Regions from separate parts of the Homo sapiens genome. Here region 2 is linked to region 1. The links come from fine-mapping of genetic effects on gene expression. A gene starts in region 1. The other region holds a variant in brackets. All regions are shown on one strand. Distances are from middle to middle. Region 1 holds the start of MAP7D3 (MAP7 domain containing 3). Region 2 overlaps MAP7D3 (MAP7 domain containing 3).

Region 1 (5,378 bases):
ATACAAAAATTAGCCGGGCGTGGGGGTGCAGGTCTGTAATTCCTGCTACTTGGGAGGCTGAGGCAGGAGAATCGCTTGAACCCAGGAGGCGGAGGTTGCAGTGAGCCAGGACTGTACCACTGCACTCCAGCCTGGGTGATAGAGTGAGACTCCATCTCAAAAAATAAAGAAAAAATTATCTAACTTCTTATTTGGAAAAACCTCAAATCTTTACCCCTACATTCTTCAATATTTATGTCTTTTTTTGTGTTCGTGAGACAAAGTCTCATTCTGTCTCCCAGGCTGGAGTGCAGCAGGCAATCTCAGCTCACTGCAACCTCCGCCTCCTGGGTTCAAGCGATTCTCTTGCCTTAGCCTCCCGAGTAGCTGGAATTACAGGCATGTGCCACTACACCCAGGTAATTTTTGGGTTTTTGTCTTGTGTTTTTATTTTTTTCTAGAGATGGTGTTTCGCCATGTTGGGCCAGGCTGGTCTGGAACTCCTGAGCTCAAGCAATGTGCCGGCCTCAGCCTCCCAAAGTGCTGGGATTACAGGCGTGACTATTTATTTCTTAAGAAGAAGTGCATTTTCCTAGGTGACTACAACATCATTCCCACACCCAAGAAATTTGACCTTGATACAATATCATGTACCATACAGTTCATATTCAAATTTTCTAATTATGCCAGTAACGTATGCCCTTTCAAGCTTCTTTTAAAAATTAGGGTTGTAATCAAGGATCATACATTGCATGTGGTCTCTTTAGCCTCCTGTGATCTGGAACACTTCTCTGATTTTTGTTGTTAGTCTTTCATGACACTAATATTTTGAAGCATTGGGGCCAGTTATTTTGTGGACTATATCACAGTCTCTATCTCTGTCTGAATGTTTCTTCATTATTAGATTTGGGTTCAACATTTTTGCAAGAAACTACAAAGCTGATGTGTTTTGCTAAATTTTCTGTTTGCGGAGTTCCAGATAAGGTCATGAAAGCTGAACTTGTGTTTGTGTATGTGTGTGTGTTTTGTGGGCACCCTAATCATATGTGTGTCGTATTAATAATCATGAATGGCTACCATCCTGGATATCATGCAAAGCATTGGTCTCTGTATTTACTTAGAAGCAGAGCTTCGGGAGTTATAATGCCAAACTGTTTATTTTTGCCACTAGTTTTTTTTTTCTTCGAGACAGAGTCTCGCTCTGTTGCCCAGGCTGGAGTGCAGTGGCAGCTCTCGGCTCACTGCAACCTCCACCTCCCGGGTTCAAGCGATTCTCCTGCCTCAGCCTCCCGAGCAGCTGGGATTACAGGGGCCCGCCACGACGCCCAGCTAATTTTTGTATTTTTACTAGAGACGGGGTTTCCCCATGCTGGCCAGGCTGATCTTGAACTCCTGACTTCAGGTTATCCACCTGCCTGGGCCTCCCAAAGTGCTGGGGCTGGGATTACAGGTGTGAACCACCGTGCCTGGCCCCCCACTTGTATTAATCTACATCATCGCAAACACTTATTGACCACGTTTTAATTTTTGTTAAAATTGTAGGTGCAACGTAATGTCTTTTTTTTCTTTTTCTTTTCTTTTCTTTTTTTTTTTTTTTTTTTTTTTGAGACAGAGTCTCGCTCTGTCACCCAGGCTGGAGTGCAGTGGTGCTATCATGGCTCACTGCAAACTCCACCTCCCGGGTTCAAGCGATTCTCCTGCCTCAGCCTCCCAAGTAGCTGGGATTACAGGCACCCACCACCATGCCCGGCTAATTTTTGTATTTTTAGTAGAGTCGGAGTTTCACCATGTTGGCCAGGCTAGTCTCGAACTCCTGACCTCAAATGATCCACCCACCTCAGCCTCCCAAAATGCTAGGATTACAGGCATGAGCCACCGTGCCTGCCCCATATTACATATTATATATATTATATATTAATATATGTAACTTATGCTATCATTGCTAACATATGTAATATATGCTATTATTAGCTTCTTCCATTTTACAGCTCCCATGTCATTTGGAGACTCAGTGGTCTCGCCAAAGTGCCCATCTCACAAGTGGTCCAGCCCCATTTTGGGATCTCCTGCACCACACTTAATGGCCCCAACCATAAACTGCGTGCCTACAACTATGTCACTACACACACACTCACAACAGTGGTGACTCCACCTCATAAGGGCAAGCCCCCATGAAGTGAGGTCTGCCCCTTAAAGGAGCCTCAGGCCAATGACGGTTTTCCTTGTGAATGGGAAAAACATTCTGCAACCTGGTAGAGTCTCTCCCAAAATCCGGAGAGATTGATGCCAATAAGTCCTCTGCCTCTCTTTGAAGACTCACAAACATCTTAAAGATATTTCACCCAACTTTGAGACCTATGTGTCATGATTTATTGTGCAACAGTTTAGGGAAGCCTACTCATGATGGGGCCCCTAGCACCTCAAAGCAAGCCTGCGACTCCCAACCTCTCCCTAGGCTTCTTCCCCCAACTTGGGTCTTTCTTTGTGTAATGTTTCAAGGACTAGTAAACTCATGATACAAGCGCACCCAGGAGGCACGCCGTAAATGTTCTTTAAATGAATGAATGAATGAGGAAGGAATGTTACTGTGTTGCTAGGTAAAGGTGAAGAAAGGAATGTTGGGGGGGCCAAGCTGGGTGCTGATTGGCTAGTCCTCACAATGCAGTAGGGGCAGAGCACGGAACATAGGAGAGGGTTTCTTTAGACCAGGTAGTCGCTGCCCAGCCGGTCAGGACGTGGGACGCAAGGGGCAATCCTGCCCGGTTCGCAGGTCCGAGGCGGGCGCGGTGGCCCTTCGGGCCCCGCCCCGCCCCGCCCCGCCCCGCCCCGCCCACCGGCAGCCCGGCCACGACCCAAGCGGAGGCCGCGCCGACGCCTGCGCAATGTATGCGGAGAGCCACCACCGCCTCCGGTCCCGACTCCGATGATGGCGGACGGCGCCGCAGCTGGCGCTGGCGGCAGCCCATCCTTGAGAGAGCTGCGGGCACGGATGGGTGAGCGGGCGGGTGGCTCCCGGGGGTGGTTCGGGCCCGCGTGGGAGGCAGGGTTCCCGCAGTCCCCGGGCCGTCGGAGCGGCGCAGCGGGCGCCACAAAACTTTTCCCTGGAGTCGCCTCGTGCTATCTGGTCCTCCCCTCACCCCCGCCGGAGTGCCCTGGGATGGGACAGGGGCGGGGGCGGGGGGTTGAAATTGTCAGCCGACGCCGCGAGCCGCCTGAGTCCCGCCGCCAACGGTCGAACTGCCGCTGCCAACGGTCTGAGCCCCGCGGACGCGGCGCGAGGCAACTCACGGGCTCTGCTTCGACGGGCGGGGCGGGGGCGGCTGGAAGCCGGACCCCGCGGACCGCCCCGTGCCCCATCTGCCCTTGGGGGGCGGTGGCCGCCCGCGCAACCGCCCCAACGAACGCACAGCTGCCTGGGATGTGCGGGCGCCCGCAGGGACTCCGCGCGCCGGCGCCGCCTCCGCCGCCAGGCAGCCTTTCCAGGCACGGAAAGTTTGAGTTATCCCCCAGCCCGGGTCGTGGGCGAGTTTAGGCGCTTTTACTGTCGCAGTCCTTGCCTCTCCCAAAGGCTTACCTCCTGCACCCTCCCGGTCAAGGTCCAGGGAGGAAGCTGGGTGAGGGTGGGGATGCTTAAAAGTTGCTTTAAAAGTTGGGATGAAACTTGGCTCTTTGCATCTCCTGATTTGCCTGCTGTAGCACATGACTTCAACAAGATGTCATCTTCTGTGGGACATCTTGCAGTCTCTAGGCTGAACTGAACGGGAATCAGCACTTCAGAGTGCTTTTTCCTCAACTAGTCCCATCGCCAAAACGTTTTTCCCTCCTCGAAAACCGTTAATCTTATACAATTTGACAGCACATTGCTTGGTCCAGGAGACTGCTCCACTACCTGAGATAGGATTTCTTCCTTTCAGGAGGTTGCTTTTAGCCTGTTAGACTAGTTCCCTCTGCTATGAGCGCGAATAAAACGATTTTATTAATTTTAATTGAATTTCTTAGGGGTTTTTTTGCATTTGCAATTAAAAAGTTAGATTGTTTACGATTGGGAAGCTATATGTTACTTGAGAAGACTTTGAATCAGCTCTCCAAAGACTGTGTCAGAAGCATATACTACATACACTTTCACCATTCATTAGGGAGAAAAGAATCTTCCTTCCGTGTCTATACTTATGGTTCACCTAGAAAGACAGTCTCCAATAAATTGTGTTGCTTATTGGTACCTGTGGCTCTCAGGCACTGGTTTATTTCAGTGATTTAGATTAACCAGCATTACTCCAATATGGTGAAGAAGCTGTGAACCGGATAAACCCCTAAAAGCATTTGTATATCAGATGTTGGAAAGTGTTTTAAAATTATATATGGGACAGATACTGGAATTCACAGCATTTCAAACCAAAAACTTAAGAGCCATGTAAAAGTCTTAACCTAGGACCCTGGTTTAAAACCTTGCTGCCCACTTCATGTTAGGAATTGTAAATATCGCATGTTAGACTTTTTTCACAGAGCACCAACTTGACCAGAACTGCCCTTTAGATCTCAGCGTTTTCCTGAAGGGGTCAAGGAGACAGATGTTTTTGCTAAAATGTTGTTTTCATCTTCTGCTGGCAGTCTGGCAGCAAGAGTTAAAACTGTCTTGAATACATAACATATAAATGCATAGCACAGTCAAAATACATTTATTTTATACATTTATGTATGCATGCAATAGATACATGTATATATATATGTGTTACATATAAAGTGTAAATATATATTTGTTGAGTGATGTTTTCTGTGCATAGCACTGTGCTGAGGTTGTAGCATACCAAATATTTAACAAAACACGTGTTTATATTTTTATGCAGAATTGTTTTAAAATAAAAATTTATTTGAATATTTCAACCAGATGAGCATAAGAAACTTGCCACTGACGTATCACCTTTCCCTTCTTGTTTTTCTAAATTCACCAGTGTTTCTCAGTTTAGAATAACTTTTTCAAAGAATAATTTCTACCAATGCAGAAAAAGCTACGGAGATTGACAGCTAGATTATCATAGAATTTTAGAGTTGGAGAAACCTTAAGATGATCTTGTCAGGCATCCAGAGTCCCAGCTGTAAAATCCTGGGGCACTTCTGCCACTTGAATGGGCACTCTCATGAGGAGCTTAATATTTTTCCAAGTAGCCATTCCATTGTAGACAGCTCTAAATGGTAGAAAATTGTCTCCAGTTTTGTCTTCAAGACATGCTATCTTTGGTTTGAACTTGGAGGTCTTCTGAAAGTCTCAGCCCTATGACTTTGGCTTTTGCTATTTGAGGCAAAATTCTGTGAATCTGCCTGATTTTTATGGTTCTCTGATGGCAGATTTCTTTTCCTGTTATTTTTTCTTAATATTTCAAAATAAAGTTGCTTTGAAATTT
Region 2 (5,378 bases), 34 kb after region 1:
CTGGCCGCATCCTTGACCAATGTAAGGGAGGGGCATGGTTTCTGGAGTCCTGCGTGCTTAGCTGCTCCTACTCCTGGTGCTTCCGTGGGACCTAGGGCTTTCTGGAATACAGTTTGAAAATCAGTGTGTCCTGTGATCTCTAGGGTTCCTTTCAGTCATCCTGTTCTATGATTCTGAAATGTTTTTTAATTCCAAGGCATTTCTTAGAAGTTAATTAAAGGACAAAGCTTCTTTTAGGCCAGAGCCTTGGTTTGGGAATAATTGGGATTCTAACCAAACTGTCTCTTTCCAGACCATCTTCCAAAAGAATGACCAGTCACACAACGAAAACCAGAAAGGCGGATGAAACCAACACCACCAGCAGATCCTCTGTTAGTATGAATTATGAGCAGCAGCGTATCTGTGACAAGATCACCAACATTGTTTAAGTCACACAGAACTATCTTTGTCACATTTTTCTCCTGACAGGCACAAACAAAATCTGAAGGATTCCATGACATCTTGCCAAAGTCCTCAGACACCTTTAGACAATAAGAGAAGAAGCAAACCTGTTTCTCCTCATTTGGGTAAGTCCTCATCTCATCTACCTTTTTCTTGAAAGGCAATTGACCCTGAACCCGCTCCCCTCCTTCTAGCCATTCCAGGGCAGTCTTTGCACCATATAGCTTTGGAAGAGAAGGAGAAGACAGTTGTGGGTCTGCAGGAATGATGTGAGAGTCTTCCATTAAGTTGGTTTTGAGAAAGTAGAGAGTAGATGACTTGATTCTAATTTTTATGTACCACATTTCAGGCCGGATATAAAAAATAAGTTCTGGCCAGGTGCAGTGGCTTACGCCTGTAATCCCAGCACTTTGGGAGGCCAAGGCGGGCAGATCACTTGAGGTCAGGAGTTTGAGACCAGCCTGGCCAACATGGTGAAACCCTGTCTCTACTAAAAATACAAAAATTAGCCGGGTGTGGTAATGCATGCCTGTAATCCCGGCTACTTTGGAGGCTGAGGCAGGAGAATCACTTGAACCCAGGAGGCGGAGGTTGCAGTGAGCCGAGATCCTGCCACTGCACTCTAGCCTGGGTGACAGAACAAGACTCTGTCTCAAAAAAAAAAATGATCTTTTCAAGCTTGCATCTCAGACTCCTCTGAGCTCCTGGTCTGCTGGTTGCTTGGCAAGCACACAGACAGTTGCTTAGGGCAGAAGATTAGGGAGGTCTTCGGAATAAGCCTCAACCTGTTTCCAAAACCAGAAGCCTCTTGTTTTTCTTTCCTTGAGAAGTTCTCTTTGAAATTGAGAAGCACCTTGGGCCTGGTTGGGGACTGGGGAAGTGAAGGACATTTATAGGACCAGTGTGTCAGCAACTCCAGAGGGGCTGCTGAGAGTCCTGGGCGTGTGCCCTGAAGGGAGGCCAGGGACAAGTTGCTGTGAGACTAGCATCTTCTCTACTGATCTTTCTTTTACTTTTCCCTCTGGTCAGATATGTAAACCTTACTCAGCCTGGGAGATGAATACATCTTCCACTCTGGATAACTCAACTCCTGGGCCCATCAGTCCTCAAATTTTTCTGCTTCTGACTTGAACCTGGTAAAGGAAGTGACACCGAAAAATTGAAAGAAACTGTCAAAAGGCCACTTTGATGTATATCTCAGATGTTAAAGTCATCTTATTCTCTTGTGTCTAAGCAAGAGTTCTAAGTAAAGAGTGGTTTTTGTTTTCTTTGGAAAATCATCATTGTCTCTCATTCTTGTGTTGTCCCACCAATGTGTTTGCTGGAGTGAGTGCATCAAGGATGCTTTCCTGAAACTGTAACTGTGGAGTTTCTAGAAGAATCTGATTGCAGAACTAATTCTCTTTCAGTATATATTTGAAATCTTAAAGTAATGCTTTTTCTTTTTCTTTTTCTTTTTTTTTTTTTTGAGACGGAGTCTTGCCCTGTCGCCCAGGCTGCAGTGCAGTGGCACAATCTCGGCTCACTGCAACCTCCGCCTCCTCATCTCAAGCAATTCTCCTGTCTCAGCCTCCCCAGTAGCTGGGATTACAGGCATGTGCCACCACACCTGGCTAATTTTTTTGTATTTTAGTAGAGATAGGGTTTTACCATGTTCACCAGGCTAGTCTCGAAATCCTGGCCTCAAGAGATCCACCCGTCTTGGCCTCCCAAAGTGTTGGGATTACAGGTGTGAGCCACTGCACCCAGCCAAGTAATGCTTTTTCTGTGTACCAGTGACAATTTTGACAGCTAAAAACTCACAGTTGATCTTGTAGAGAACA[G/T]AATAGATTATGCAAGGGCCGCAGGATCGCTCACAAGAGCTGTCAGATTGTTTCTAATATAAAAATACCAAAGGTTGCAAAATCCAGCAAATTGTATTTTACTGTGATATATGTATATTTTTAACTCTACCCATCTGTGCCAGTGAGTACACAGGCACTAATAACCTGAAATGCTGGGAGTCCTGTAAAGCCCCATCTTGGAACAGTCAGCACCTTTCATGCTCTTGTCAGTGTTTCCTTTTGAAGGACATATTGGTGTTTATCTACAGAAACATATATTATTTTTATTGTGTACATAAAGGAGTATATGGCTGTTGTCCCGTGGGGTATGTTTAATTCCTCTAAATGTTTAAAGTACTTTTCTGCCTGTACTCTCCAGTTCTGTCGTTGAGTATACACTCAGGCTTGAGATACAACCAAAATTTGCTTGCCTTTCTCTAGCCACTGGCTGCCAGTGAGTTCGTGTGATGGGCACACAGAAATGCACACAGATGTACATACACGTATGTATGCACACACAGTATATGATTCCATAAAATTCAAATGCAGATTAATTCTCCTAATGAGTTTTCAGTGTTGAATCGTAAATAGTCTGAAGCAGGCCAGTGTTCCTTTTGGCTGCCAGTCTTGGATTAGTAAAAGGAGGTAATTCTTTCAGATTCCCTGGTTCTTTGCCACTCAGAGTATTGTACTTTTGATATAGAATAGAGAAGGTTACCTTTGGTTTAAAAACTATTTTTATATACTAGCTCTTTCATGTATAAAACAGAGACAATCATCCTAACAAAAGAGTTCCTGTTATTTTTCTGCACAAATGTCTTGTGTTGAAACACTGTTACAGTTCCATATAAATGTGTGCTATATAAAATAAACTTTGGAGATAAAACAAGGGTTTTTTCATTATAATACTAAAAAAAGTGTACTGGTGGTGGTATAAAGGCAACACCAATTGTTGGCTGAGCTATGAACACAGGCAGCCAGCAAATTGAATGAACAGGGATCAAATCCCCTGATTTCCCTCTTCATCCAGTTGGTGATTTGGCAGAGTTCCACTTCTGGAATAGAAAGATGTGAGTTTTTTTGTTTGTTTGTTTGTTTTAGAGACAAGGTCTCACTCTGTGGCCAAGGCTGGAGTACAGTGGCACGATCATAGCTCACTGCAGCCTCAAACTCTGAGGTTCATGCAATCCTCCCACCTTAGCCTCCTGAGTAGCTGGGACCACAGTCATGGCACCATACCTGGCTTTTTTTTTTTTCTCTTCGTCTTCTTTCTTCTTTCTTCTTTCTTCTTCTTCTTCTTTCTTCTTCTCTTTTTTTCTTTTTTTTTTTTTTTTTTTTTTAGAGATAGGGTCTTGCTATGTTGCCTAGGCTGGTCTTGCACTCCTGGCCTCAAGTGATCTTCCTGCCTCAGCCTCCAAAAGTGCTGGGATTACAGGCATGAGCCACCACACCCAGCCTAGATGTGAGTTTTCAAGCTCTGGTTGTCTTCCTGCAACTATTTCAGTGCTTGTTACTCTTCCCTGTGATGGTTCTGTTGTATAAGTTGAGGCTTATTACTGCAGTATCTTTTGATTTTTTTAAAAAAAATATTTTGTTTTTTCTTTCTTGCCCTGGTTTATGGTGCTGATCTTGCTTTTTTTAATCCCAATAAAAATCATATAACCTAAAAGTAACCATTTTAAAGTGTATATTCACAAGGCTGTGCAGCTATCCCCACTGTCTAGTTCTGGAACATTTTCATCACCCTGAAAAGAAAATCTGTGTCCTTTAAGCAGTCACTCCCCTTTCCCTCCTCCCCTTGCCCCTTTAATTCTCACATTCAGTGCTCACCTTGGATGAGGAAAACCCTCTTGCTTTGAAAAGTCTGGGCAGTTAATTGTGCTCTTTTATACTCATCTCTTAATGACATCACTGTTACTGTGAGTGGCAAAACAAATGTTCTGATCTGCCTGTGAGTGTTTAGTTTCCAATCTTAAGTCATGCTTTACTCCAGCAGTCCCCAACCTTTTTGGCACCAGGAACTGGTTTTGTGGAAGACAAATTTTCCATGAACCTTTGGTGGGGATGGTGTGGTGGTTTTAGGATGACTCAAGTGCATTACATTTATTGTGCACTTCATTTCTATTATTACATTGTAATATATAATGAAGTAATTATACAACTCACCATAATGTAGAATCAGTGGGAGCCCTGAGCTTGTTTTCCTGCAACTAGACGGTCCCATCTGGGGGTGATGGGAGACAGTGACAGACCGTCAGACATTAGACTCTCATGAGAAGCACACAACCTAGATCCCTCACATGCGTGGTTCACAATAGGGTTCTCACTTCTATGAGAATCTAATGCCACCACTGCTCTGACAGGAGGCCGAGCTCAGGCAACAATGCAAGTGATGGGGAGCCACAGTAAATACAGATGAAGATTTGCTCTCCTGCCACTCACCTCCTGCTCTGTGACCCAGTTCCTAACAGGTCACAGACCAGCACCAGTCCGTGGCCCAAGGGTTGGGGACCTCTGCTTTACTAGGTTTTGTTTTTGATAAGGCAAGGTCCTTGTTTATCCCAAGTCTTTGGGGTCTGGTGCTTATGAGAATGGTGGTAGCCATTCCCCACTGAACATGCTAGAGCATTCTATATACTTTTAAATCAGCACGAACTAGACACATCCCATTCCTGTCAAATTCCAGAAATCCCATTCCTCCTTGTGTCTCATCTGAGCTGGAAACTCTTCACTGCCAAGTCTGGCGCCAGGTCCTGTTGATCCATCCATTGAAACTGTCTACCAGGATGTTCCTGTTTACAAGGCCAAGGTGATGGACACTGACCTAGCTTTCCCCTCACGCATTGCTGCCTCGCATTTCCCTTCCTGGTATCCTCTACCCGGAGGGACAGACCCCTGGCCTCTACCAGCAGATTCTGCAGATCAGCGCATTTTCTACGCCTGTGTCATTGTGGACACTGCATGTGGAATGAAGTTTTTTAACAGCTCCAATCCCTAAAAACCACAAGAATGCAGTGTGAAATACCATAAAGAATGCCAGACAGGCCCCTGAAGACCTGAACCCAGCTGAGAGGGCTGCTAGCTCACGTGTGACATTGTGCACGTTGTTGCTCT

Evidence for each region. PIP is the estimated chance that this variant, and not a neighbour inherited with it, causes the effect. A credible set is the group of variants that fine-mapping cannot tell apart.
Region 2: its variant is the best candidate, but not a certain one, in a credible set for the expression of MAP7D3 in monocytes (TOPMed, PIP 0.76).

The regions. Positions count from the first base shown.
Region 1 is chrX:136,248,883-136,254,260 of GRCh38, reverse strand. MAP7D3 (MAP7 domain containing 3) reads left to right here and starts at 2,861. Exons shown (of 19, transcript NM_024597.4): 1 at 2,861-2,972. The coding sequence starts at 2,903. RefSeq lists a silencer at 2,755-3,144.
Region 2 is chrX:136,214,586-136,219,963 of GRCh38, reverse strand. It overlaps MAP7D3 (MAP7 domain containing 3), which reads left to right. Exons shown (of 19, transcript NM_024597.4): 17 at 293-371; 18 at 469-566; 19 at 1,471-3,150. The coding sequence ends at 534. Among named protein-coding and RNA genes, the nearest start is that of FHL1, 20 kb to the right of the region's middle. RefSeq lists a silencer at 5,160-5,378. The variant G/T (reference allele first, on the strand shown) is at 2,265.